Regions from separate parts of the Homo sapiens genome. Here region 1 is linked to region 2. The links come from fine-mapping of genetic effects on gene expression. A gene starts in region 2. The other region holds a variant in brackets. All regions are shown on one strand. Distances are between the middles of the regions. Region 1 overlaps CATSPER4 (cation channel sperm associated 4). Region 2 holds the start of CNKSR1 (connector enhancer of kinase suppressor of Ras 1).

The links.
Region 1: its variant is fine-mapped to the expression of CNKSR1 in naive CD4 T cells (Schmiedel 2018, PIP 0.95).

The regions. Positions count from the first base shown.
Region 1 is chr1:26,197,677-26,212,808 of GRCh38, reverse strand. CATSPER4 (cation channel sperm associated 4) reads right to left here. Exons shown (of 10, transcript NM_198137.2): 4 at 15,026-15,123; 5 at 14,732-14,852; 6 at 14,390-14,523; 7 at 12,751-12,925; 8 at 11,768-11,979; 9 at 11,290-11,455; 10 at 9,845-10,320. The coding sequence ends at 10,267. Among named protein-coding and RNA genes, the nearest start is that of CATSPER4, 15 kb to the right of the region's middle. RefSeq lists enhancers at 10,382-11,354, 14,338-14,837. The variant AAG/G (reference allele first, on the strand shown) is at 11,117.
Region 2 is chr1:26,172,039-26,186,355 of GRCh38, reverse strand. CNKSR1 (connector enhancer of kinase suppressor of Ras 1) reads right to left here and starts at 8,865. Exons shown (of 21, transcript NM_006314.3): 1 at 8,757-8,865; 2 at 5,746-5,903; 3 at 5,460-5,641; 4 at 4,415-4,499; 5 at 3,954-3,995; 6 at 3,772-3,876; 7 at 3,100-3,159; 8 at 2,942-3,010; 9 at 2,526-2,627; 10 at 2,215-2,285; 11 at 2,069-2,142; 12 at 1,849-1,955; 13 at 1,744-1,771; 14 at 1,170-1,342. The coding sequence starts at 8,808. RefSeq lists an enhancer at 3,785-4,286.

The DNA.
Region 1 (15,132 bases), 26 kb before region 2:
AGGAGGGGGAGTTTGTCAGTCACGTAACATTCTGTTGTTGCAGTCAATTGCAGTCAATCGTATATTGTGATACAAAGTGCCAAATCATATTAATAATAGCTGGTAGGTAAATGCAGTCGTATACCTAGCGAAAGAAAATGAGACACAGTTCAAACCCAGTTTATCTGGCAGAGCCCATGTTCTTCTTACCCACAGGGGGAAAGAAATAACACAAAAGGAAAAGCTGTCTCATTCTCAATGTGTAAAAACTCGATGATGTACGTCATATTTTCTGTGGAGGGGCACATGCAGCATGTACAAGTTGGCACATAACCCTGGTTTTACTGAGAGTCTGCTGAGGTAGTGACAACCCTCTAATGGGCCAGCATCTGCCTCAAGGCTTGACTAAAAACCACCTGGATTGGACTTCTACCTTGCACAGCCCTGCTTAGCTCCCCTGCTCTGCAATAGATATCCCAAGGTGCTGCATGAACATTCCTTAGAATGAGGATTCTAGGAACAAATAATCTTAGGAAATATATGCTATAATCTGCTGCTAGGAAGTCACAGGAAACAGTGGAATATTAAAGGCTCTGAAAAGTTCTTCAGTCGAGACACAATTTTGTTGAATCCAGCATTTCCCAAATGTATATGACAATAGAACTTTTTTTTTTAAGTGAAATGTCTATTGCAATCACATAGCACTGGTGTCCCAGGAAATACATTTTGGAAAACAGTGACCCATAAGTTAAGCACTGCCGGTTTTGCATGTAACAAAAGCTTCATCCCAAGGCAGGACTACCCAATAGACCAAGGCAGGAATGCCAAAGAAATATTTTTTAAAGGAATTAGATTTTTTTAAAAAAAGACACAATAGTCATTTTAGGAAAAGCAGAATTTTGTTAAGTATATTTTATTATATTTTATTGAAAATAGAGACAGGGGTCTGGCGCAGTGGCTCACGCCTGTAATGCCAGCACTTTGGGAGGCTGAGGCGGATGGATCACAAGGTCAAGAGATTGAGACCATCCTGGCCAATATGGTGAAACCCCCTCTCTACTAAAAATACAAAAATTATCTAGGCATGGTGGCACGTGCCTGTAATCCCAGCTACTTGGGAGGCTGAGGCAGGAGAATCGCTTGAACCAGGGAGTCGGAGGTTGCAGTGAGCCAAGATTGCACCACTGCACTCCAGCCTGGCGACAGAATGACACTCCGTCTCAAAAAAAAAAAAAAAAAAAAAGGTAGAGATGGGATCCCACTAGGTTGCCCAGGCTGATCTTGAGCTCCCACCCTCAAGTGATCCTCCCATCTCAGCCTCCCAAAGTGCTGGGATTACGGGCATGAGTCACTGCGCCCAGACTTGTTAAATTTAAATGCTTGGGGGAGGAGAGGTTAGAATTATTTCAACCGTGAAGAACATATGTTTGGGGGATATTATTATCTTTTTGCTGTCTTAGACCCAGCTTCAGGCCTGCAGAGGATGGATCTGGGAGTTTGTGGCACTGCCTGTCGGAGGCCCTGTGAACTCAGCCTTTCTGTAATATCTGCCACACTGACTTGCCCCAACAGTCAGACTTTTGCCTTAGTTTTTCCACCTGGCCTTCCAGGCCTCCGCTGGAACTACAGTTCTTGTCTTTGGTGCAGCTCCTTCCCCCAGGAAAGTTTCATCTCTGGACAGTAGCTAGAGTCCTGGGGGCTGGAGCTGAAAAATTGTGCACTCTATCCCATATGCCCAGCTGCCTGTCTTCCCACCAGAAATCACCTCTACCCAGGTGGACTCAGAAGATGCCAACGTCTTACCAAACTTCACTGGCCCTCTCATACCCTTTGGACCCTTTGAGACTTCACAGAATTATGGTGTCCACTCTGGCCCCCACCTCTTCTTTGTTTTACTCACATGAGTTCCTCAGACTTACCCGCGTGGAAGTAGTAGCTGTCATTGCACATACAAACTCCCCTGCTACCTGCATACTCATCCAAAGCACAGGCTCCAACTCTGGGACCACTACTCTGGGTGTGTTTAGGGGAGGTTTGACTGGCCCCAGTTACAGCAGAGGATTTTGTTGTTTCCGAGGACCTGGGGAGAAGGCCTGTGGAATGAGCAGCTGTCATCTCATGTGACTGGATTATAGCAGTGGCAACACTGGAGGTTGATTCTGCCAGATGGGAAGGTGTCTGTGAGACTGTGTTATGATGTGTTCCAGACAACTTGCTTATCATGGAGGTGGTTGTTGGGGATAAGGATGCAGCTGTAGTTTTTCCTTCCTGAGTCTCAGATGTAGTTGTTCCAAGAAGAGTTGTCCCGAGAGTGGTTGTGTTTAGCAAGGTAGTGTGCATAACTTCGCTGGCTGTCATGGGTGAAGATTCTTTTATGCCAGTGGTTTTGTTCAGTGCTGTTGGGGATGTAGTTATAGCTGACTTCCCAGAGACAGTGGTTGCCATGGACCCGGATGATTGAACATGATGGCCTGGCGTGCTCTTTGCTGTTGGGGATGTAGTTATAGCTGACTTCCCAGAGACAGTGGTTGCCATGGACCCAGATGATTGAACATCACTGCCTGGTGTGTTCAGTGCTGTTGGGGATGTGATTGTGTCTGATTCCTGAAAGCCAATGGACACTGATGATTGTGTCCCATTGACTGTGGTGTTTGATGCTGATGGAGTTATAATTGGAGTTTCCTGATTCTGTTTTGGGGTCTCAACTGAAGAGGCCGTGCTGGATAAAGCTGTGGTTCTTGATATCCCTCCCTGGTCCTTCAATGTAGAAGTCATGATGGAATTTGGCAGCAGTGTACCCTTGGAGGTTGTGCTGATAGTTGTGTTTAATTTCTCTTCCTGAGTTTTTTGTATTGAAGTTGTCTGCTCAGTGGACCCATTAGAGCTGCTGTTTGTGGAGAGGTTGGAGGAGCAGCTGGTGTTGTATGCTTCTGGGACTCAGATGTTGATGTCTTGTCAGTTGTTGGTGAACTGTTAAGTACAGCTGGAGAGACATTGTCTTTCCCTTTGTTAAACAGAGTTGAAGTTGTAGATGAACACAATATAATTTCCTCAGGTGCAGAGTCTTCTGTGGAGTGTATTGTTTTTGACACAACTCCCCAGATTGTAACACTGCCTGTGAAAAAACAAATAAACAGAAGGTAATCTAGACTGGGTATTGTGACTCATGCCTATAATCCCAGCACTTTGGGAGACCGAGATGGGAGGAATACTTGAGGGCAGGAGTTTGAGACCAGCCTGCTCAACATAGCGAGACCCCATCTAAGTAGAGAAAAATAAAAATTAAAAAAAGAGGCCGGGCATGGTAGCTCATGCCTGTAATCCCAGCACTTTGGGAGGCTGAGGTGGGCAGATCATGAGGTCAGGAGTTCGAGATCAGCCGGGCCAACATGGTGAAACCCCATATCTACTGAAAAAAAAAAAAATTAGCCAGGTGTGGTGTCCCATGCCTGTAGTCCCAGCTACTTGGGAGGCTAAGTCAGGAGAATCACTTGAACCTGGGAGGCAGAGGTTGCAGTGAGCTGAGATCATGCCACCGTGCTCCAGCCTGGGTGACAGAGAGAAACTCCATCTCAAAATAAATAAATAGATAAATAAATAATAAAAGAGAAAGCAATCTACCTGTTCCTTCCACCAAACCAGAGTTATTTTCAGATGTTATGACTTGTCAAATATTCTTACTGGGAGACTCCCTAAAAATAATATCAGGTCGTGCACAGTGGCTCACGCCTATAATCTCAGCACTTTGGGAGGCTGAGGCGGGAGGATTGATTAAGCCCGGGAATCTAAGGTTATAGCAAGCTCTGATTGTGCCACTGCACTCCAGCCTGGATGACGAAGTGAGACCCTATCTCTAAAATAAAATTATATATATAAAATATATATACATATAAATATATATTATATATACATATAAATATATATTATATATACATATATAAATATATATTATATATAATGTAGTGGGTGTTGATTTACATACATATGTAAATCTTACCAGCTCACATTTATGTGCCAGCTCTGTGCCAATAGATTTCAACAGATGTATACCAGGGAGAGAGAATTTTACTTGTGCAGGTAACTATGTCTCATTCCACTCAATGGCTACTCTAGACAGTGCAAGTCAGTAAAAGACAGAAATCTGTTATCTCAATTGGTGTTTGATTTCTTGATGCCTTGTTTGATATTAGTTTCCTACTGCATTGAATATGATTCTAGTATTTAAAGATACGATTTTTTTCTTTTTTGAGACAGAATCTCGCTCTGTCACCCAGGCTGGAGTGCAATGGTGTAATCTCAGCTCACTGCAACCTCAGCTTCCCGGGTTCAAGCCATTTTCTTGCCTCAGACTCCTGAGCAGCTGGGACTACAGACATGAGCCACCATGCCTGGCTAATTTTTGTATTTTTAGTAGAGACAGGGTTTTACCATGTTGCCCAGGCTGGTCTCAAACTCCTGACCTCAAGTGATCTGCTTGTCTCAGCCTCCCAAAGTGCTGGGATTACAGGGATGAGCCACTGTGCCCGGCCTAAAGATATGAATTTTTTGAACAATATGACCCCTAACTGCAAGCCGAGTGTTTCATTGAGTGTCATAGCAGTCAAGGATCATTTTGATATTGTTCAAGTGTCACCCTGCCCAGGTAAGGTGCTGCTCCAATGCACAGGCACATTAAATCCTTACAACCAACCTGTAGAAAAGGACTATTATTTCCATTTATCAAATGAAGAAACTGAGGATCAGACAGGTGAAGACATCTGTCCAAGGTCACACAGCCAGGAAGTGGTGCCACTGCATTTGAAACAAAGTCCATCAGACACCAGAACCCAATGCCTTCCCTACCACACTGCACTGCCTTACAAAAACACAGCTTTATTCTCATGGTTGAGCCAGCTGCTCTCTCTAGAAAGGCCCAAATCAATTATGTTGGGCTGGATTCCTTGGAAACCTTCTTCTTTCCCCTGGGTAATGGGCAGAAATAGGCCCATCACCTGATGTGCTGTTTTTGCATTCTTGGCAGTTTTCTTTCTTTCTTTCTTTCTTTCTTTCTTTTTTTTTTTTTTGAGACAGCCTCACTCTGTCACCGAGGCTGGAGTGCAGTGGCGTCATGTTGGCTCACTGCAACCTCTGCATCCTGGGTTCAAGTGATTCTCCTGCCTCGGCCTCCCAAGTAGCTGGGACAACAGGCGCATGCCACCGTGCCCTGCTAATTTTTGTGTTTTTAGTAGAGATGGGTTTTTGCCATGTTGGCCAGGCTGGTCTCGAACTCCTGGCCTCAAATGATCCACCCGCCTCAGCCTCTCGAAGTGCTTGGATTATAGCCGTGAGCCACCGTGTCCAGCCTCTTGGCAGTTTTCAAAAGGCTAACTCAGAAAATTGGAGGCTGGCCAGGCATGGTGGCTCACGCCTGTAATCCCAGGATTTTGGGAGGCTGAGATGGGAGGATCACCTGAGGTCAGGAGTTCGAGACCAGCCTGACCAACATGGTGAAACCTCGTCTTTACAAAACACACAAAATTAGCCAGGCGTGGTGGCACACACCTGTAATCCCAGCTACTTGGAAGGCTGAGATAGGAGAATCGCTTGAACCCGGGAGGCACAGGTTGCAATGAGCCAAGATCATGCCATTGCACTCCAGCCTGGGCAACAAGAGCAAAACTCAAAAAAAAAAAAAAAAAGGAAAAGAAAAGAAAAGAAAAAAAACTGGAAGTGACCCAGCCCAGGTGGCAGGCTCATTCTTTGTCCTTCCCATCGCCTAATTCTGAAGATGCACCAACCCTTCTTTTCTGGCACCATCCACACCCTCACTTTTTTTTTAGAGACAGAGTCTCAGTTGCCCAGGCTGTAGTGCCGTGGTGCAATCATGGCTCACTGCAGCCTCAAACTCCTGGGCTCAAGTGATCCTCTTGCCTCAGCCTCCTGAGTAGCTGGGACTACAAGTGCGCACCACCACACTCGACTAACATTTTTCTTTTTATTATTTATTTATTTATTTGAGATGGAGTCTCACTCTGTCACCAGGCTGGAGTGCAGTGGCGTGATCTCAGCTCACTGCAACCTCTGCCTTCTGGGTTCAAACAATTCTCCTGCCTCAGCCTCCCGAGTAGCTGGGACTACAGGCGCACCACATTGCACACACATTGCACCACACCCAGTTGATTTTTTTTTTCCTCACTCTGTCACCAGGCTGGAGTGCAGTGGCACAATCTCAGCTCACTGCAACCTCCACCTCCTGGGTTCAAGTGATTCTCCTGCCTTAGCCTCCCGAGTAGCTGGGACTATAGGCGCATGCCACCACGCCCAGCTGATTTTTTTCTTTTCTTTCTTTCTTTCTTTCTTTCTTTCTTTTTAAAGACAGATTCTCACTCTGTTGCCAGGCTGGAGTAAAGTGGCACAATCTCAGTTCACTAAAACCTCCACCTCCCGGGTTCAAGTGATTCTCTTGCCTCAGCCTCCTGAGTAGCTGGGACTACAGGCGCGTGCCACCACGCCCAGCTAATTTATTTTTTATTTTTTTAGTAGAGACAGGGTTTCTCCATGTTGGCCAGGATGGTCTTGATCTCTTGACCTCATGACCTGCCCCCCTCAGCCTCCCAAAGTGCTGGGATTACAGGCGTGAACCACTGCACCCAGCCTTCTTTTTATTTTTTGTAGAGATGAGGTCTCACTATATTACCCAGGATGGTCTCAAACTCTTGGCCTCAAGCAATCCTCCTGCCTTGGCCTCTAAAAGTGCTGGGATTGTAGGCATGAGCCACCTTGCCCAGTCCCACACCCACTTTCTTCTGGCCCTGTGCAGAGCTAAGGGATTGCAACAGGCCAGGGGAATTGGCAAGGATGCTTGGAAAGGGTAGGGGGACCTACGCTCTACACCTGGCTCTATTACTGGCTTGCTGGGTGACGCTGGGGAAGGTCTCACCTCTCTCTGGGCCTCCATGTTCCTCTTAGCCTAGTGAGGGACTTGGCTCAGTGTGGAGGAGCATTGTAAACTCTAGTCATCTGTGGGGTCCATTTGCAACAAAGATCTAGTTTGCACTGAACCTATATGTCTTGCTATAGGGGTCTCAAGTTTTTATTTGCAGGGAGGGATGTTTCCACTGAATCTGACTTTATGTTTTTTCCATATAGTTAATCAGTTATCCCTGCCCCCTTATGGAAAAGTCCATCTTTCCCCCAACCAACACCACATTATCTTACTGTTACTTTATAGTAAGCCTCAATATTTGGTCGGGTGAGTCACCCATCTTGTGCTTCAAAATTATCTTGACAGGCCGGGCGCAGTGGCTCTCACCTGTAATCCCAGCACTTTGGGAAGCCGAGGTGGGCAGATCACTTGAGGTCAGGAGTTCGAGACCAGCCTGACCAACATGGTGAAACCCCATCTCTACTAAATACAAAAAATTAGCTGGGCTTGGTGGCGCATGCCTGTACTCCCACCTACTCGGAAGGCTGAGGCAGAAGAATTGCTTGAATCTGGGAGGTGGAGGTTGCAGTGAGCCAAGATCGTGCCATTGCACTCCAGCCTGGGCAACAAGAGCAAAACTCCGTCTCAAAAAAAAAAAAAAATTATCTTGACTATTCTTGGCCTTTTGTTCTTCCTTACATATGTTAGGATCAGCTTAACAATTTCTACAAGCAACCTGTTGGAATTGTGATTGGAGGTGCCCTGCAATTATAGGTTCAGTGAGGATTGACATCTTTATGATATTGAGGTTTCCTGCCCACAGAAGCTCCCTTGAGAAGTGTGACCTGGGCTCTGAAGTCAGACCTGGGTTAGGATCTCAGTTCTGTGATGGAGGATAAGTCCCCCGTGGGGACATATCCTCTTCATACCCACTTCACTGATGGTCATGAGGATGAAATACTGCGTGTGAAGCACTCAGCACCATGCTTAGCACCTAGTAGGTACTCAATGAGTAGAACTGCTATTGGGAATGATTATCCCCTGCTGCTCCTGTCATCAGAATTGGTGTCTGCTTCCTGGACAGTTTGCCAAGGATGCTCCTGTCCCTGGTAAAAGTTATGGACTCATAGGGAGTCCCCAGAGGTCCACTGATTGTAGCTGATGGGAAACCCATCAGGTGAGACCATAGGGGTGATGAGACACACAATTTCCAGCCACCTCCCAATATCTTCCCCCGCACTGTCCTAGGAGCTCAGAATCCGGGGCCCCACTCCTAACTCAGGCTCAGTAAGGCATGGGGAGTGGTAGTTGCTCTTTGCTGGAGTAGGGAAGGGGAAGGGGAAGGGGAGAGTATGACTTCCTGGGCCCTCAGTTCCAGGCCAGTTTGGGAAGGAACTAGCCTGCTGAAACTCCAGGCTGTTAGGTTGGCCCGGATGGGAAAGACAAAGGCAGAGACAGATGAGATGACAAACAAGATGAAGGGAGTAGATAGACAAAATAGCATCCTGGAGGAGATAGATGGTCAAGGCCAGGAGCTCCATGGAGGTCACCCTGCTGTGCTCCTGACTGTAAGCTCACTGATGCTCCAAGCCTTTCAGACAGTTAGGGGTGAAGGATAGCCATACTCAAACTGTTAGCTCCTCCTGAAGACACCATCTGATCTGCCACCTTCTTCCCTCTCTGGCCAACAAGAAGAGGGGCTGAGAGGGCCCCCAGAGAAAGATGGGTGGAAAGAGTATGTAGATACTCACCAGGCAGGTTGAGGGCGCCATCTCCAGTAAGTAGCAACAGCAGCAGCAAAATCCGCTGGGTGCCCTTCTCTGTGCTGCTGATGGTCCTGGAGGGTGCTGGGAAGAAGTCCTGGCTCAAACAGGGGAATAGATTAACGGCTCCGAGACAGTAAGGCACTGCTGGCTCTGTTGCTGCCTCTCATCTGCCTACTGAGTGCACCATCCATCCCCAGGGGCCAGACTCCTTCCCAACAGACCCCAGGGGGCTTTTCAGAGTTGGAACCAATGCTGATGGGAGGACGATGGGGGGTGGGGTTTCCCATCAGCTGCAATCAGTGGACCTCTGGGGACTCCCATTCCAACTGGTGAATATCGCCACGGCCCCTAAGTGTCAGGCTTCGCTGAACAACAGGGCAGATGTCCAGGCCTTCCAGGCTATCCCCTGACACCTGCATCCCAGGGACATAGCTGATCCCATGGGTCTTCCACTTCCTGGGATAAGAGGGGATTATTTGATTTTAGAGATGGAGATCAATCTCACCCTCTCTCCATCGCACAGATGGGGAAAACAAGGCCAAGTGACTCACTGAAGGACCAGAACCGAGGTTTCCTGTCCTCCAAGGCAGCTCTTTCTATTGCCCATAACTGCCACAATTTTCTGACTCTCCCCAGATTGCATAGCTCAGGAACCTGCTGAGGCTCTCAGTGGCCTTGAGTATGAAGATCCCAAATAGGCTTCACAGGTCCTAAGTTCCCCACCAGACTTCATTCATCTGACCCGCAAAATCTTCCTCTCCTCTAGGAAGCTGCCAGGACCCACATTTTAAGTAGTCAGTCTCCATTGCCCTAGGATGGAGGTGCCTGTACTTGTGTGACTTGGTCATTGGTGATCCCATCAGACAAGGGCTCCCCAGAGTGAGGACCAGTCTCCATCTTCAGACAGGGAGAGAGCAGGTAGGGCCATCTCCTTCATCAGACAGGGGCTCCCTCCCATGAGGACCAGACTTTCCTCCACAAAGCTTAGGACCCTGAGGGCAAGGGTTATATCTCTACCATTAAGTCAGAAATTTTTAGGGGTGCAATTCTCCCTCCCATTAGACTGGATGCTCTTCAGGGCAGCCTGTGACTCTCCCACCAGACAAACGGGATTTTGAGGGGCAAGATCTGTCTTTCCTATTAGACCCAGGCAAGTGCCCCAAGGAGTTGGAGATCCACCAGTCAGAGACATTGATTCCAACACAAAACTTTATTGTCAACACACAGATGTCTGGCCCCACTGGCCTTGCCTTTCTCTTCTTGGTTCTGGGGCCCACTGAGGCCCCCCACCAGCTCTGGGCAAGAGCAGGGGGCCAGGGATCCCCATCCTTAGGTCAAATCCTGGCTGCGTTGGCCAGCACCCCCTTCTGTGCTCATCCTTGCTGCTAGGGTTCCCACTCTCATCATCCAGCATCCTCCTCTCTCCTTGCTCCACCGGACCTGGGGCTCACAGGCACCAGACCTGCAGGTGCTGCCACCTTCACAGCCCCTGGCCTCTGCCCAGGTATAAGGGAGAGGATGGGCTCTGGCCAGGCTCTGCCAAGCCACACTAAGGACACAGGAAGACGCAGCGGCTGGGTGTGTGTGTGCAGGCCCCTTGGCTCCCATCCTGGCCTCTCAGTGGCTGCTCTTGTGTTTTTTAAGGAGTATTTGTGAGCTAGAGTCATGAACCTGCAAACCAAGAGGTCTTCTTGTTAATCCCCCACTCCCCCCGATATGGCAGCCTCCGTTACTCACCTCCTCCAGTCTCACCAGCTTCCCCAGCCAGGCCTCCCAGAGAAGTGCTTCATAGGTCTAACTTGAGCCTACCTAGTACCCCCTCTGAGTTTGGGAGCCCAGGGTATATCCCAGGCTGATGGTGTGGAGGGGCAGAAAAAGAAACTAAGTAACGTGGGTGTGTGCCTTTTTCTCTCCAGGAGTTCAGGAGACAGCTGGTTTTGTGCACCTTAGATAGGATCCTGGGTCCTGTGCCCACACTATACTTACAGCCTAAGTGTCTGCCACTAGGCAGGCACTGAGCTGGCTCATGCCACACACACTAAGAAAGGGTAGGTTTGAAGGCACTAGAGATGAAACTGGCAGGAAGGGTGGAGCCTTTCCGAGAAGGAAAGTGCAGAACCTAACCAGATAGGCAGTGACAGCTGAGGCAGATGGAAGTTTAAGAGGCAGACAGCCAGGTGCAGTGGCTCACGCCTGTAATCCCAGCACTTTGGGAGGCCAAGGAGGGTGGATCACGAGGTCAGGAGTTCAAGACCAGCCTGGCCAAGATGGTGAAACCCCCATCTCTACTAAAACTACAAAAATTAGCCAGGTGCAGTGACAAGCACCTGTAATCCCAGCTACTTGGGAGGCTGAAGCAGGAGAATCGCTTGAACCCAGGCCGCAGAGGTGGCAGCGAGCCGAGATCGCGCCACTGCACTCCAGCCTGGGCGATGGAGTAAGACTCCGTCTCAAAAAAAAAAAAAAA[AAG/G]GAAAGAAAGAAAGAAAAAGAAAAAAGAAAAAAAAGGAGGGGTGGTGGTGGTGAGGGGGACCAGATCTTGGAATAGACAGAAACTTTGACAAATGGTCCAGAGGCCCGGCTGGGCTGGGCTGAGCAGAGTGTCAGGGCGAGTACCCATTGGGTAGGAGAAGGAAGGCACACCTTTTCCATGCTAACGAGCGCACTGAGCAAGTCTTGCTGTTGAGACATCTGGCGGATGTCCTTGGATGACGTAGTCTCCAACGACCCGCTCGTCGACGAGCGCCTGTTCAACACCTCTGACTCCTGCTCCTGGTTGAAGCGGATTGCGCGCACCTCCTCCACAATCCTGGGGGTGGAGCAGTGAGTGCCTTTCAGAAGGCCTCAGGGGAGGGAAGCAGCCCTCCCACCTCTTCCCTGGCGTCACCCCCGCTTCGCTCTCCCACGCAGCCCTGACAGAGACCCAGGCCGAGCTGTGCCCTTGTGTGAGATGGAAGGAACCTGGAGTCTGGATTCCAGTTCCTCCACCAATAGGGTGGGGGACCTCTGTGGGGCCCAGGCTCTGCCTTATAAATGGTGAGGGCGTGAGGCCAGAAGACTCTGACGCTCCGCCCAGCCTTGACTCACATGACTTGGGGGCAGCCCCAGTACCCTCCCCTACATGTTGAGTTCATCTCGGATCTCCTTGTACTGCCTCAGGTTCTCCTGTATTGCCTCAAGCACCAAGCAAAAGTTGTCACACGTGTTTTCTGAGAGGTTCGACAGGGGGCCTCCCGCAAGGGGTTCCTGGAGGAGACCAGATTTCTCCGAGCGGGCGACCACACAATGCACCAGTGGCAGCTGGTCATTCTCCTCCTCTTCCTCTGCGCCTGTCTGGGAAGCGGGGGATAGAGAGGGGTCGGGACAGCTCAGGCAGGCACGCCCCCGGCACCCTTTTCCTGCTTGGCTTCAGGATGAGTCTCTTAGGACCCCAGGGTTCTAAGGCCCTCATTTCAGCTCTCACCAATCTTAGCCTCACTGCCTTGCTGGGGGAACCCAACTTTAAATGCACATGACCTCCCCCCACCTCTTTAAAAATTCTCACCCCATTTCAAAATTTAGCCCTGCCCCAGATTTCAACCCTGATAAACCCTACCCAGCAAATTTATAAAGCCCTGCCTACCCTCAAGCCCAGGCCTCCAGCACTCCACTCTTTTAGAAGTACTCCACCCCTTTCCCCAACCTTATGGAAGTACTGCCCTGAATGAATAATACCGTAGCTAACATTTATTGAGTGCTTACTATGCGCCAAGCACTGTTCATTTACCCATTAACCCTCATAAAATAACCCTATGAGTTAAGTACTATTATTATTCCCATTTTACAAAAGAAAAAAATTGAGGCTTAGAGTGGGTAAATGCCCCAAGGTCACCCAGCTGCTCAGTTTTGAGTTGCCATAGAAATCTAACATCTAGAAAATCCACACCCCTCAGAAGCCCCAGTTGGTGGGTGGGCACTCAAGATGGGGGGCTGCTGCCTCCAGGCCTCCAACTTGGCTTTCTCCAGGCCCTTGATTATGCAAGCACACACATACATGCACATATGTTCAAGTCCGCTCTCATACACACTCCTTTTCCTCCCTTCTGCCCTCCCCATCCCACGCACCTCACTAAAGGTTATTCGTTGCTGTTGTCCCTGCTCTCCTGCCTTCATCATTTGCTCCAGGTTGGTGGTCACCACGATGACGAACAGGTTGATGCCAATGAAGGCACCGATGGTGATGAAGATGGTAAAGTAGATGGCACCCCCAATCTCCATTGCATATTCCCTCTTCTCTGTCCTGCAGATGGCAGGCAGGGGCCCCATCATTTCCCTGGCCCTTCAAGCCTGAGTTTCCTTGTCATTGAAATGGGAAAATCATCCCAAGGCCTACTAGAACTTCTGCCTGTGTCACTGCTGTTGTGCAGATCCCATTCCCTACTCCTGTCTCAATAGCTGCTCTCTACTAAGCACCTACTGTGCTGCCAGACAGTGAGCTGATTCTCTAACCAACCCTGCAAGGTGGGGACGTGCACATCAACACTATTAAGTTTAATCTATTAGCTACACTCCTTTTTTTTTTTTTGAGATGGAGTCTCGCTGTGTTGCCCAGACTGGAGTGAAGTGGCGTGATCTCGGCTCACTGCAAGCTCCACCTCCTGGGTTCATGTCGTTCTCCCGCCTCAGCCTCCCAAGTAGCTGAGACTACAGGTGCTTGCCACCACGCCTGGCTAATTTTTTTTTTTTTTTTTTGAGACAGAGTCTCACTCTGTCACCTAAGCTGGAGTGCAGTGGCGTGATATGGGTTCACCGCAACCTCCGCCTCCCAGGTTCAAGCGATTCTCCTGCCTTAGCCTCCTGAGTAGCTGGGATTACAGGCGCCCCACCGTCCGGCTAATTTTTGTATATTTAGTAGAGACGGGGTTTCACCTTTTTGGCCAGGCTGGTCTTGAACTCCTGACCTTGTGATCCACCTGCCTCAGCCTCCCAAAGTGCTGGGATTACAGGTGTGAGCCACTGCACTGGGCTTTGTTTTTGTATTTTTAGTAGAGATGGGGTTTCACTGTGTTAGCCAGGATAGCCTTGATCTGACCTCGTGAGCTGCCCACCTCGGCCTCCCAAGGTGCTGGGATTACAGGCGTGAGCCACCGCGCCCGGCCCCGGCCAGCCTGATTTTTATCCACTACCTATGCCATAATGGAGAATGACTGTAGAAGCCCTTTATCTACTGGGCTTCTATACTCACATGTAGAAGATAAAAAGAAATCAGTTAAGGGGTCCCACTTTCTGGAATAAACTGGAAAGAAATAGGGCTTAGACTTAATAGAAAAGAGGTAAAGAACAGAACACAAAAATGAATGTGGGCAGTGGGTTTAAGAATGAATGAAATGAGACCTGAAGTTCCCAGGAGTTCAGGCAGTTTGGTGGGCTCCAAGGTGGGCTGGGAGGTTGCTCTGTAACCTGAGGCATAACTGCAGACCTGCTGCCTTATCCAAGGCCAACTACCCAGCTGGTTAGCATGATGGGAGAGGTCCCCATTACAGGGTGGGAATGGGACTCTGAATATATGGAGATTCAAGGGTGACAAGGCTTCAGGTATCACAAGTCCAGGTATTTCCTTTTCCTCTGTTTAAAGACCTGGGAACCCCCACTTCTACTGGGCCATCCTCATCCCAATCCCTGGAGCTCCCACTCTCAGCCTGGAGCTCCACCGGCTACCCTGCCCCATAGGTGGGATGAGGCTGGAAGTCCCACTGGCACTCACTGGAAGTCACTGTAGATGTCCACCCAGCCGTCCTGGGTGATGCAGATGAAGAGGGTGTACAGCGCAACCTGTATGTTCTGGAAATGCTTGGGCACGAATGCACCAAAGAGTGTTACTCCAAACACGGAAAAAACCTGTCAGAGAGAAAAGAGCCCCACCCCGACTTCACCAAAGGGCCTGGAAATAGGACACACAAATGTCATGTAAATGAACGCTGCTGAGGAAATCACAGGGATTCAGGCCCACAGGCCTCTCTGCTTTTCCAGACACCCCTCTATTTGCAATGACCCAAGGGCCCTGTTCAGGGAAGGGAAACAGCTGGGGGCGGGGGCAGGCACTGACCAGCATGAAGAAGAGGATGAGGACCATGATATTGGCCATGTCAGGCACCGACTGCAGGATGACGCGGATGATCCGGGCGAGGGGCTCCACCGCCATGCACACATGCACCAGACGAAGCGCCCTGTGGCAGAGCCTGTCAGGGGTGCCCCTAGGCCCTTCCCAGCCCCTTCCCTCCTCATTACCCCCACCAGCTGCCCAGAGAGGCAAAGCTGATCTCCAGCTGGTCGTTATCCCCCCATCTCATTCCTGGGTTCCAGATAGGTCCCCCTCATTTCTCCAGAGCTCCCCGCTCACCTGAGAGTGTAGTTGATGGAGGGAATATTGATTTCATTAATGAAGAACCGCAAGAGCAAGATAAAGACGATAATGAAGTTGAGGATGTTCCAGCCGTCCTGGGGAGT
Region 2 (14,317 bases):
GCCCTCCAGCCTGGGTGACAAAGCAAGACTCTGTCTCAAAAACAAAAACCAAAAAACCAAACAAGAAGAGCTTGCTCATGCATTTGTTCCTTCAGTAGACACAAACCAAACTGCTTCACACCCCTGAGCTTTCTGAATGCTGCTTTCTCTTCCTGGTTTTCTTTCCCCTTCCCATGCAACTAACTGCCAGGTATTGCATTGTCAGGGGGCATCTGGACTCCTCAGGATGGACTGGACACCTCTGCTGTGCTCCCACATATCCCTTGGGCTTTCCCTTTATCTTAGCACACGGTCCCTACATTGTCCTTGAGTGTGTATTCATCCCTCTCCCCTACTAGCCTCTAAGTTCTGGAGAAGCAAAAATCATCCAATTCTTCTCTGTGTCCATAGTGCCCAGCCTAGAGCTGGGTTCACAGTAGGCACCTGAATCCTGAATGAATAAATGAGTAAATGAATGGCCCATCATTCGGATGGACAGAATATCAGAAGGATAAGGAGAAGTGGGCAGAATAGACGTGATTTTTCGGCCAGATGTGGTGGCTCACGCCTATAATCCCAGCATTCTGGCGGGCTGAAGCAGGCAGAACGCTTGAGCCCAGGAGTTTGAGACAAGGCTGGGCAACATAGCAAGACTCCATCTTGCTATGTTGCCCAGATTTTTCAGGGCCGGGTGTGGTGGCTCACGCCTGTAATCCCAGCACTTTGGGAGGCCGAGGCAGGTGGATCACGAGGTCAGGAGATCGAGACCATCCTGGCTAACACGGTGAAACCCTGTCTCTACTAAAAACACAAAAAATATGCTGGGCGTTGTGGCGGGCGCCTGTAGTTCCAGCTGCTCGGGAGGCTGAGGCAGGAGAATGGCGTGAACCCGGAAGGTAGAGCTTGCAGTGAGCCGAGATGATGCCACTGCACTCCGGCCTGGGCAACAGAGTGAGACTTTGTCTCCAAAAAAAAAAAAAAAAAGATTTTTCTCTATACCTCCTATGATACCTTTTCCAAACTGCTTTTATACATATATTAACTCATTTCTCTCTGAATAAAGTCCCCATTTTACAGATGGGGACATCAAAGCCTTGGACCAGGAATAAGAGTGGATGATAGAATAGAGATGAGAATCGAGGCCTGGAAGTGACTCACTTGCCTACCTGTTTTTGTGTATGGGGTCTTACCTGGGGCTGGCGGTACCAGTAGAGCGTGTGTCCCTTGAGCACAAACCAGCGGCGGCGCCAGCGCGGGCCCATGAAGCCGCCCGGTGCCTTTCGCAACAGGAGCCAGCCGTCACAGTCCGGCCGGCCCAGCTCACGGCATGACACCCGCCGGCGGCTCAGCCGGGTCGCCAGGCCTGTAGCAGCACAGCACAAGCTGGGCAGTGAGGGGCTGGCAAGGTGCCCCCGCTAAACCTACTCCCTGCCTTCCACAAGCATCCCCAAGTGAGATCTCTGAACCCACACTCTGCTCAGAATGCTACATGTGTCATCTCTGAGGTGGGATGACCCTTCTTATTTTAGAGATGAGCAAACTGAAGACTAGAGGCTAACCTGTTTGCTCAGTCACAGCAAACAGGTTAGCCTCTAGTCTGGTGAGAGGCCCAGACTGGGAGCACAGCTCTGTCTGACCCTAGAAACAGAGCTGTTTCCAGGAGAGGCTGTGTGGGAAGGATGGGGGTGGTCTTGCCCAGCATGTAAAGATTTTTAACAGCTCCTCAAACAGGGGAACCCCCACCTAGTCCAGCGCACCTCATACCTTTTGATTTCTTCCGACCAACAGGACTCTGAAAGGACAGCAGAAGGGTGAGAGAAGGATCTAGGTCCAGACCCACCCACCCCCTTGCTAAGCCCCTGAGCTTACCTTGTCAGGGGATTCAGGGAGCCCTGGAGTCCCTGCTACCCCTGCTGGGAGTATGGCTGGGGGTTCCGGGGGGATGGGCAGGGGCTCAGGGCCAAGGGAGGCAGAGTCTGTCAGGGAGGGAGGAGAGAGAGGGAAAGTCTATGAGCCCAGTCCCAGGCTTGGGGTCAGAACTGGGTGCCCAGATGCCGTGTCCGGGGCATCCATGGAGCTTTGAGACTACCTGTCCAGGCAGGGCTGGGTCCGGGACTGGGGTTTGAAGACAGGTCAAAGGCAAAGACGTCTTCAGATGGGGCCCTGGGGAGGGCAAGGGGGATGAGATGAGCCCACGGTCTCCCCACCAAGACACACCTGGACAGAGCCTGTTACCTGGGAGACAGTGGGGCCAGAGACAGTGATGGGCTCCTCTGGTGCGGGGAGTCCAGGACCTGAGGGGGCGTCTGGGGAACAACCAGGAACAAAGCAATGGAGACAGGGGTCTGAAAGCAGGTTGGGGGGCAACAGGGGTAGGGGAGCAGCAGGAGCAGGTACCTGTGGGGGGGTCTGAAGGGAGCTAGGGGGGCGCAGCAGGGGAAGGTGCCTGTTGGGGGGGGTCTGAAGGCAGGTGTGGGGGTGGTGGGGGCAGGTACCTGTGGAGGGGGGGGTCTGAAGGCAGGTCGGGGGGCGGCAGGGGAAGGTACCTGTGGGGGGGTCTCCGGTATCGGGATCTTCTTCAGCACTAAGCTGAGTCCGGCTGGCTCCCGCAGCAGTTCCCTCACCATGTTCTTACGGGGCCATCCCACCTGGGGGACAGAAACACTGGCTGGTATCAACCTGGGCAGGAGGCTCTAAAGCAACCACCAACTCTCACCCTCGTGCTGGGAGCTCTCTCTCAGCCTCCCACTTCTGCCTCCCACTCATGCAGCCTCCTGGGGGCTTCCATGGGCCCCATCACCTGGGCTCTGCAGAGGATGCTCTCACCAGACTTAGCTGGCTCATCTCCTGGAAGGCAGCTCCCACAACCCTGGTCAGAACCCTTGGTTGCCTCCCCACCCACCAGACTTGGGTTCCACTCGGTGACCCCTTCACCTCCTACCATGTCCCTCTCCTCACGCACCACCACCTGCTCGTTGATCTGGACAACCTCGTCTCCAGGCTGGATCTGCAGTCGGGAGTCAGTGGGAACCTGACGTGGGGAATGGGGCCTGAGGTTGGCCTGGCTTGCAGGTGAGAGGCCTCGGGGATGGGCGGCTGAGAAGGGTGTGGGGCTCTCACCTGGGTGTCCACTTGGGACACAAAGTGCTGGCAATTGCTGGTGGTGTGAATTTCTAGGCCCTGCAGAGGCAGAGGCTATAGTCACCGGGGGCTGGGGGGCAACAGGGCCAATAGGCAGGACCCCCGCCAGACACCAGGACTCTATGGTGGGTGGAACTGTGGCAAGAGCTGACCCCAAGCTGGTCCTGCCCAGACTTGCTGTATGACTTTGGACTTGCTACTCCTGTGGGCCTCTGCCTTCTCCTCTGCTAAGAGCCAGAGGGAAGCTGGAGACCCTGATTTCTGAGGTACCAGCTTCTCAGCAACATTCCTAAAGGGACAAGCAGGGACAGGGCAGGGATAGGGCTCTGGTCTTCCCCACTGGTCAAAGATTAAACCAAGAAAGGTCACATCCTCTCCCTTTCTCCTAACTGCCCCCAAGCCCCTGCCCCGTCTCCATCCCAAGGCTGGAACACACTACCTGAGGCCACACCCGCGTGGCCCCTCAGGACTGGGGAGGTGCAGAGCAACGGGAGACCCTGGCCAATCCTCTGGGCCTCCATTTTAGCATCTGTACAAAAAAGGCTTTCCAGCCATGGCAGCACAGGGTTCTGTGGGATCCTGGACCCTATTTCAGGGCCCAGACAAGGCTGCCAAGGGGTCAGAAGTGAGAGGTGGGAGGGCAGGGCTCACCAATGGACTGTCCAGCTGCACCTGCTCGAGCACGGCCTTCTGTTCCAGCAGCTCCTTGGGGCAGCAGACCAGGATGTTGTGGCAGATCCCAGCCACGTGGCTGCACTGGGGGAGGGGAGCGGGCTATGTAGCCTGAGCCCGATCGCCCCTACCCCCACTCTCTTCCCACCCCACAGACTCACGATCCTCAGGACTGTGCCCTCCTTCTCAGCCGCTGGACCATCCTGGAAGTAGAATGAGAGAGCAGGGGCCTCCCCTGAGCAAGGGCCATAAGGGGACTGCCTTCTCCTGGGGGCAGGGTGGGATTCCGTACAGTCCCTCCCTGCCTTCCCTACACTGGCCCCCTGCCCAGAACCACAGGGCCTCAGCGTTTTAACCAGAGGGCTCGTTTCCCTGATACCAGGCCCCCAGAAGTCACCACACGTGCCCTCCCCTCCTTCCCTGTCCTGAGTGTCAAAATTCCCCTGCCAGCTAGGGGACCCCAGGCCCCATTGTCCCATACCCAGTGGCAGGGCCTCCTCTCCTCCTTTCTCGCCCGTCTCAATCCTCATACTCGATCCTGGGCTGATTCACAGGTTATAAAAAGCTCTAGCCCAGCTTGGTCTCTAGGGCATGGGCCAAGCCTGGCCCTTGGTTCTCCTACCTCATGCAAGACCTGGCTCAGCTCCTCCAACAAGTCTCGGATCTCCTGGCATGCTGAGAAATCATTTAAGTGGGAGAAGAGGTACCTGGCAGGGGAAGAATAGCACAGTGGTTAAGGGACTATGCTTAACCACTCAGAGCCAATTACTCACCAATTACTCACCTCAGAGACTTGGGGATAATACCTGCTCTGATGGGTTTTGGTTTAGAGTAAAGGAGATGATTGAGACATCTAAAGAGATTAGCACAGGACTTATTTGTCATGTGCCTACCACATGCCAAGCCCTGTTCTAGGCACTGGGGAAACAGACAGTAAAGACATCATACATCAATATCAATTTAACTTTGGCTGTAATGAGTATCATGAAACATTGGATAATGAGTTTATAATAAGTTATTATTTATTATTTATTAATAGTATAGCTTGGAGAGTGTACAACAGGGAAGGCTTCCCCGAGATGACATTTGAGGTGGGGTCTGTAGGACAAGCAGCAGCCAGTGCACAGGGTTGGGGAGGCTCTCCATTCAGTGGTTGTTGATGAGATCGATTATTACAAGCTGGAGGGTGGGGTGGGAACTCTGGCATCCCAGTGCCCCTGCACAGGTGGATTAATCCCTCTGCCCTGCTCCACCATATCTTTTTTTTTTTTTTTTTTTTTTTTGAGAGGGAGTCTCACTCTGTCGCCCAGGCTGGAGTACAGTGGCATGATCTCGGCTCACTGGAACTTCCACCTCCCAGGTTTGAGTGATTCTCCTGCCTCAGCCTCCCCAGTAGCTGGGATTACAGGTGCGCACCACCACACCTGGCTAATTTTGTATATTTTTGGTAAAGATGGGGTTTCACCATGTTGGCCAGGCTGGTCTCCAACTCCTGACCTCAAGTGATCTGCCCGCTTCGGCCTCCCAAAGTGCTGGGATTACAGACCTAAGCCACCACGCCTGGCTCACCATATCTGAACAAGAGCCAAGATCTGTTTTTCTCTCCCACGCCCTGAAGGAGGCCAAGGATGACAATAGTCCCTCACTCGTCACCCCAACCCGGGTACCTGCTGAGCCAGAAGAGGAGGGCGTCAGCTTCATGCAACAGCTCCACAGCTGCACAGAGGACATCAATAGGGGTCTTGGCACAGTCCCCCAGGCAGCCTTGGACTATGCTCTGGAAGTCATGGGTTGCCCCCAGAAGTCCCTCTGTCAGGCTTTGCAGGTTCTCTGTCTGTAGCCTGGAGCTCTGTGCCAGAAAGAGGGCAAGTCACCTCCCTGGCAGCAGCCAGCCCCCCATCACACCCCCCAGGTTGGTGGAAGCTGCAGCCAGTGTGACCAGCATTCACTCACCAGGGCCTGGAGCTGTTCCACCCCGCCCAGGATGAGCTCCTGGTGTCCCAGAGACCGCACAGCCAGAGCCTCGAGGCTTTGGGGGCAGAGCTGGAGCAGGTTCTTGCCAGGCAGCTGCCAGTCCTCAAAGGGATAGTCCTGCAGGGAGTCGTCAAGACCTGGAGGGAGAGTAAGGCTCAGCTCGGGGAAGCAGAGGTGTCAGGACCTTTTGGGATGGTTCTTCATGCCTGCAAAGCTCTTTTCCCTCTAGTCTAACCCTAATGACAACTCTGACACCCAGGCTGTTCTGCCCATTTCACAGATGAGGCCACTGAGTTGAGAAGCAGGAAAGTATAGGACATGGGTTCTTAAAAGTGGCCCCCAGACCAGCAGCAGCAGACTCACCGGAGAACTTGTTAGAAATGCAAATTATCAGGCCTCACCCCACACCTGCTGAATCAGAAACTCTGAGGTTGGGGCCCAGCAGTCTTTTTTTTGTTTTTGTTTTGTTTTTTCTTTTTGAGACAGGGGCTTGAGACACAGTCACGGCTCACTGCAGCCTTGACCTCCTAGGCTCAATCCATCCTCCCACCTCAGCCTCCCAAGTAGCTGGGACTACAGGCACACACCACCACACCCAGCTAATTTTTGTATTTTTTGCAGAGGTGGGATTTCACCATGTTGCCCAGGCTAGTCTCGAACTCCTGGGCTCAAGCAATTTGACTGCCTCAGTCTCTGAAAGTGCTAGAATTACAGGTGTGAGCCACGACGCCCAGCCAGCAGTTTGTATTTTAATGCAGGTGACTGTGATGCTCCCTTAAGTTTGAGAACTAATGATACAGGGGATAAGAACAAGAGGCTATGGAGTCACTGAGACACTGTGAACACTTGAGCAAGTAATAGCACTGCTCTGTGCCCAGTTTTCTCACCTGTAATGTGAGAATAATAAAAGTACCTACCTTCTAATCATGTGTGTATTGAATGACACAACATATGTCAAGGCCTTGGCCACTGTCTGGTTCGTGGGAGACAGCCAATAATAGCCATCATATTATTATTGCCAGACTTTACCATGACCTACAGGCCCTGTATGATTAGGCTACTACCTCCCTTTCCAGCATCATATCCTGAAGAGCCCCCTAAACTCAACATTTCAGATGCACAGAGCTAATTCCTTGCAGCTCCTGGAACACCCTTTTACCTCAGCGTCCTTGCAAGTGCTATTCCTCCTGCTGGCGTTGCTCTTCTATCTCCTTCACTTCCTTTTTCATCTAACTTCCTCCAGGAAGCCTTCCATAACTTCCCAGGCTGAGTGGGATGGAGGGCTCTCCTCTTGTTCCCACTGCCCCTGAGCCTCCACAAACCCCTGCACTTGACCATCGGTCTTTCCCATTTTATCACAGGCTCTTCAAAGATCAGGCCTTAGATAACCATTTGTCTCTAACCCCCGGCCTGTGCCTGGACAAGGTAGGCACTGAAAAATAAGAAAAGTGTCTATTGAGGGCTTACTATGTGCTATGCAAATCTATAAGAGCTTTACACATATTAACACATTTGATTCTCACTGCATTTCTAGGAGGTAAAGACTATCATTATCCTGCTTACAGATGGGAAAACTGACACAGAGGTTAAGTAGCTTGCTCACTCTTCGAAGGAATTCTTCCCCTTCTAAGCCAGGCTCCTTCACTGGGGGAGGTGTGTGTGTGTGTTCCCTGTGTCACATTGAGAGCACTGGACTGGGAGTTCATGAACCTATCACTCCCTGGCTATGGGCCCCTGAGCCACCTCCTTCCTGCACGGTGACTGTATTGGGCTGGTGCCCTCCCAATAGACCCAGGCATTGAGCTACAAATGAACTATGTCATGATTGTCTCACTTTGTCGACTTCATAAGGTCAGAGTTGCCTTTCCCATTTGATGGACAGAAAAACTAAGACCTATGGTCACAGAGCTGGCAAGCGGTGGGGGTGGGCCTGGAATCCAGCCTGGGAGTCTGAACCCAGCCCTGAATTCCTGCCCTTACCCGGGCTGGTCCTCCTGAGCCTGTCTCTAGTGCGCTCCAGCTCCCCACTCTGGGAGGGGTGTCCTGACTGCCTGCTCCTGGTCGCACTGTGTGTCAGGAGGCCCTTCCTTCTCTGAGTCTGCCTGTGGGGTGTGTTGCTTCCCATCTGTGTGGGCTCGCTGAGCCTGGACAGCACCTTGCCCCTTGGATAGGAGCCCCAGGGTGGGGCTGTGTCAACCTCTTCAGTCTGGCCTAGGGCTTCTGCTTCTGTCACTAGGAGCTCAGGGTGTGGAGCGGGGAAAATGACACCAGAGACTGAGCAAATCATTTCCTGGCTCTGTGTGTCAGTTTCTGACTCTAAGAAACGGATTTAACAACAGCCCACTGGCCCTGGGGCCAGGGAAGATGAAGGAGATACAGTGGGTGTGGGCCTGTCAGGCCTCCCTCCTGTTTTCATGACACCGCCTCCCCATTATCACCCTAGAGGCCTCTTGGGCTACTGCCATGATGAGGGGCCCCCTTCTGGGTCCTTGGGCCCCCCAGGGTCATCTCATCTGTCTCTCTGCCCAGCACGGTTCCTGGAACATGTTAGGTGCTCTGTAAATATTTGTTGACTGACTGACCGACTGATAGAGCCCGCAGTTTATTATTTTTTTTTTTCTTTTGAGCTGAATCTCGCTCTGTCGTCCAGACTGGAGTGCAGCGGTGCAATCTCGGCTCACTGTAACCTCTGCCTCCTGGGTTCAAGCGATTCTCCTGCCTCAGCCTCCCAAGTAGCTGGGATTACAGGCACCTGCCACCACCCCCAGATAATTTTTGTATTTTTAGTAGAGACGGGGTTTCACCATGCTGGTCTTGAACTCCCGACCTCAGGTGACCCACCCACCTTGGCTTCCCAAAGTGCTGGGATTACAGGTGTGAACCAGCGCACCCAGTCCGCAGATTTTTTTTCCTTTTCCTCTCCTCCCGCTTCCCGGTGGGACACCACACCTAGTCCCCTTCAAGCCCAACTCTACCCCAGCCCCACCCACCTCTCAGCCAAGTTGCCACCTTTCCGGGGGTCCAGGTCTCTACCGGTTCCATGGCCCAGCTCTGCCAGCTCGAATCAGCTCCTGTTTTGCCCTGCTGTCGCCGGAATTTCCGCTCCCAGAGCCCAGGCCTAAGGAGGGGCCGGGCTGGGTCCTGGGCGGAGCCTACTGCATACCTGGGCTCACACAGACGGCAAGATGAGGCACTGCGACAGCCATTGGCCCACGCCCGTCCGCCTCCTGCCCGGCCCTTCAGACATCCTAGGGCTCTGGCATCTCGCGCCTGCTAGGGGGCAGTGCCACTGGCCTCATATCGCGGGGTGGGACCCTGACCCTTGGGCTCCTCAAGAAAAAGCCACAAGAGGAGCGCTGAAATCAGTAGCAAAGCACAGAGGCTAGGGGGCCAGGTCCCTGGGTGCCTAGGCCAGCTCTTGTTAGCTGTGTGACCTGGGGCTGACCCTAACTTCTGCGCCTCAGTTTCTGGGTCTGTAAAAGAGATATAATAGACCGTACTTCAAAGGGCAGCTGTGCACAGTATCTGAATGGCTTGAAAACATTTAGAACTGGGGTGTTTAGCCTCCCTTGGATTTTGCAGTATGGACTCTGGCATCTGGTGAGGCCTGTGAATGCTTTCTCAGAATAGCTGCTTATAAAGGCATAAAACAGGCCGGGCGCGGTGGCTCACGCCTGTAATCCCAGCACTTTGGGAGGCCGAGGTGGGCGGATCACTTGAGATCAGGAGTTCAAGACCAGCCTGGCCAATATGGTGAAACACCATCTCTACTAAAAATACAAAAAATTAGCTGGGCGTAGTGGGTGCTTGTAATCCCAGCTACTCAGGAGGCTGAGGCAGGAGAATCCCTTGAACCCAGGAGGGGGAGGTTCCAGTGAGCCAAGATCGTGCCACTGCACTCCAGCCTGGGCAACAGAGCAAAACTCTGTATTATAAATAAATAAATAAATGCACAAAACAAAATGCTTAGGATTACAATGAGAACAATTATCAAAACTATATTTAAAAACAAATTTGGCCGGGCATGGTGGTTCACGCCTGTAATTCCAGCACTTTGGAAGGCCAAGGCGGGTGGATCATGAGGTTAAGAGATGGAAACCAGCCTGCCCAACATGGTGAAACCCCGTCTCTACTAAAAATACAAAAATTAGCTGGGTGTGGTGGTGCACGCCTGTAGTCACAGCTACTCAGGAGGCTGAGGCAGGAGAATCGCTTGAACCTGGGAGGCGGAGGTTGCAGTGAGCTGAGATCACGCCTCTGCACTCCAGCCTGGCAACAAAGCAAGACTCCGTCTCAAAAAAAAAACCCACAAAAAACAAAAAAAAAATTTGGAGCTGGGGAGTGCTGGCACACGACTGTAGTCCCAGCTACTCGAGAGGTTGAGAGGTTGAGCGGGGGAGTATCACTCAAGCCCAGGAGTCAAAGCCACCCTGGGCAACATAGCAGGAGCCCATCTCAAAAAAATAAAACCAGAAATTTATATTATGTGTTTACTAACATTAATAAGACTGGCCGAAAGTTAAATTTTTCTTTTTTAATGACCTCAGTGTGTTGTCGACCAGCTTGAATAAGGACATTAAACTGTGGGGTGGTCTTTGACGCCCCTCCTCTTACATATTGATCAGCAAACAACTAAAAACAGGGAATGCTGGGCCGGGCATGGTGGCTCACGCCTATAATCGAGACGGGCGGATTATGAGGTCAGGAGATCGAGACCATCCTGGCTAACATGGTGAAACCCCGTCTCTACTAAAAATACAAAAAATTAGCCAGGCATGGTGGCGGGCGCCTGTAGTCCCAGCTACTCAGGAGGCTGAGGCAGGAGAATGGCGTGAACCCAGGAGGCAGAGCTTGCAGTGAGCCGAGTTCGCGCCACTGCACTCTAGCCTGGGCGACAGAGCAAGACTTCGTCTCAAAAAAAAAAAAAAAAAGACAGGGAATGCAGAAGAGTGGAGAAGCCCTACTCAGAACAGGCAGATTCGCCCTTTGGTCACTGAACCACTGCTAAGCCTGGAGGTAACCAATTAATGGCGGCTACATCACAGGAGCATCTGAAACAGAAGTTGCTCACGAACAATTTAGTGGTGGTTTAACAACCACTGTGATTTTGAAATCACTTGAGCATAAATATTTTGAGATACTTGCAATAACTACAATTTGATATGAAAATATGTGATTTCTATTGGTGACTAAGCCAAAGATACTGCTACTGCTTCAATCCATATAGAAGGAAATCATAAATTTTGGTTAGAGTTTAGCAAAAATAAAAATATAATTTTTTCCCATCCAAGTTTATGGATCCCCTGAATTCTGAACCTCAGAGCAAGAGCTTTAATCTTAGAAAAATATCTGACACATAGTAAATGTTCATTTTCATCATCATCATCAGGTCAGGGGACTCCCAGGACTTTAGAATCAGATAAAATCAGCCGGGCGTGGTGGCTCAGGCCTGTAATCCCAGCACTTCAGGAGACCTATGCGGGCGGATCACCTGAGGTCAGGAGTTCGAGACCAGCCTGACCAACATGGAGCAACCCCATCTCTACTAAAAATACAAAATTAGCCGGGTGTGGTGGCACATGCCTGTAATCCCAGGTACTCGGGAGGCTGAGGCAGGAGAATTGCTTGAACTCATGAGGTAGAGGTAGCGGTGAGCTGAGATCGCGTCATTGCACTCCAGCCTGGGCAACAAAAGTGAAACTCCACCTCAAAAAAAAAAAGGCCGGGCGCGGTGGCTCATGCCTGTAATCCCAGCACTTTGGGAGGCCAAGGCGGGTGGATCATCTGAGGTCAGGAGTTCGAGATCAGCCTGGCCAACATAGAGAAGCCCTGTCTGTACTAAAAATCCAAAAAATTAGCCGGTCGTGGTGGCGGGCGCCTATAATCCCAGCAACTCGGAAGGCTGAGACAGGAGAATTGCTTGAACCCGGAAGCAGAGGTTGCAGTGAGCCGAGATTGCGCCACTGCACTCCAACCTGGGCAACAAGAGCAAAACTCTGTCTCAAAAAAAAAAAAAATCAGATAAAATCAGTTCCATACTCAACTGCTATGTGACTCAGCCCAACTTCTACAGCTCTCTGAATCTGTTTCTTTGTCTCCAGAAGGGGATTCCTAGGCCTTAGCACTGTGATGACATTAAGTACTTTGAAATCTGTATCATGGGGTAGATATGAGTTATTATTGCTTTAATTCTGTGGGGAGGAGCTACCTGTTGTCACCTACTTCAGAATTTCTGCAGCACCCCCAGTCATCAAAGCCTGTCACGACCTTACCTGTAACCCAGAGACCCAAAGTCTGAATTTCGCCCATGGTTGGCCCATGTAGTGTACGTGTGTTGTCATCATTTAATAACGTCACATCCAAATTGAGATTTCCAGCTTCTCTGAACTTGGCCAGCTCTGGTGATGCCATCCCACCTTCACACTTGGTATTAACAGCCTCTTTCATTTTGTGAGCCAGTTGGCTTCAAATTTGCAAAATGCCCGTCTCCAGCTTTGTCTTTTGCCTCAGGTCTGTGTCCCTTGAACACTCCGTGCTGCATCCTCGTTTAACATTTTTGCCTCTTCATGCAGCAGCCTCCCTGTGGCACTCTGGGGAAGTCCAGTAAATTCTAATAGAGCCTTTATCAGTGTTCGGTAGACAGATCTTGATTTCATCAAATATCTTTCCTGAGCTGCCACCAGAGGTGAGAACCAGCCCCCTCTCTCCCTGAACCACGGCGCCTTTACTCTACGCTCCCAGCATCTGCCAGGGTTAGGCAGTTAGGAACACAGTAAGTGGCAGCTTCTATTTATTTTTATCTATTTTTTTGAGACAGAGCTTTGCTCTTGTTGCCCAGGCTGGAGTGCAATGGCATGATCTTGGCTCACTGCAACCTCCGCCTCCCAGGTTCAAGCTATTCTCCTGCCTCTGCCTCCCAAGTAGCTGGGATTACAGGCGTGTGCCACCATGCTCGGCTAATTTTGTATTTTTAGTAGAGATGGGGTTTCACCATGTTGACCAGGCTGGTCTCAAACTCCTGACCTCAAGTGATCTCCTTGCCTCGGCCTCTCAAAGTGCTGGGATTACAGGCGTAAACCACCACGCCCGGCTGACAACTTCTATTTTAAAGGGTTTCATTTTGTTTTTTGAGAGAGTCTTGCTCCGCTGCCCAGGTTGGAGTGCAGTGGCGCAGTCTTGGCTCACTGCAACCTCTCCCTCCCAGGTTCAAGTGATTCTCGTGCCTCAATCTCCCAAGTAGCTGGGATTACAGGTGTGCGCCACCACACCCAGCTAATTTTTTTATTTTTAGTAGAGACAGGGTTTTGCCATGTTGGCCAGGCTGGTCTCGGACTCCTGACCTCAAGTGATTCACCTACCTTGGCCTCCCAAAGTGCTGGGATTACAGGTGTGAGCCACCATGCCCAGCCTATTTTAAAAAGCTTTATGAATATAAAGTTCTACATATTTGCTGTATACATTTCAAAGGTAATAGGTTAAGTGAAAGAAGGATGTGCCCTTTCCCCAGTGTGTCTCTATCATGTTCCCCAGTGGGGGCCACTACTAAATTTGGGATATTCTTCTATTTTCTATATCTGCAGATAGTCTACATACTATTCTGCAAATTGTACTTTTTCTTTTTTATTTTTATTGGAGACAGGGTCTGGCTCTGTCACCCATGCTGGAGTGCAATGGTGCAACCTCAGCTCATTGCAGCCTCCACCTCCTGGGCTCAAGTGATCCTCCCACCTCAGCCTCCTGAGTAGCTGGGACTACAGGCATGCACCACCATGCCTGGCTAAATTTTTTTTTTTTTTTTTGGTAGAGATGAGGTTTCACCACGTTGCCCAGGCTGGTCTTGAACTCCTGGGCTCAAGCCATCTGCCTGCCTCAGCCTCCCAAAGTGCTGCCCAGCCATACTTTTTCATTTAAGAGATAATCGATAGCAAATGAAATAATACAAGTTAAGTGCTTAGAACAATGACTACTATTTTTAACGTATCACGGGCAGCTTCCTTAATTGGTATATGCAGATATGCTTTTATTATTGTTTCAAGCTGAGGGCAGGGAAGTCCCTGAAGAAACTTTGTCTTGAAAAAATGGGTTAAATTGGCCGGGCGCAGTGGCTCACACCTGTAATCCCAACACTTTGGGACGCCAAGGCGGGGGGATCATGAGGTCAGGAGTTCAAGACCAGCCTGACCAATATGGTGAAACCCCGTCTCTACTACAAATACAAAAATTAGCTGGGCGCGGTGGCAGGTGCCTGTAATTTCAGCTACTCAGGAGGCTGAGGCTGGAGAATCGCTTGAACCTGGGTGGCAGTGAGACGAGATCATGCCACTGCACTCAAGCCTGGGTGACAGAGTGAGACTTCTGTCTTAAAAAAAAAAAAAAAAAGGGTTATATGTGCCCTCCCTTGAGGTAGGGGCGGTTGATTTCACAGAAATCAAATGGAAAAGGCATACTGTTGTGGGAGCTAATAACACATCCTTCCTTCGATAATGCTGATTGGTGGCATCCAATCATCTAAGGTAGCGATGGGGCCTGGACCAGGGCTGAGGGAGGCCCG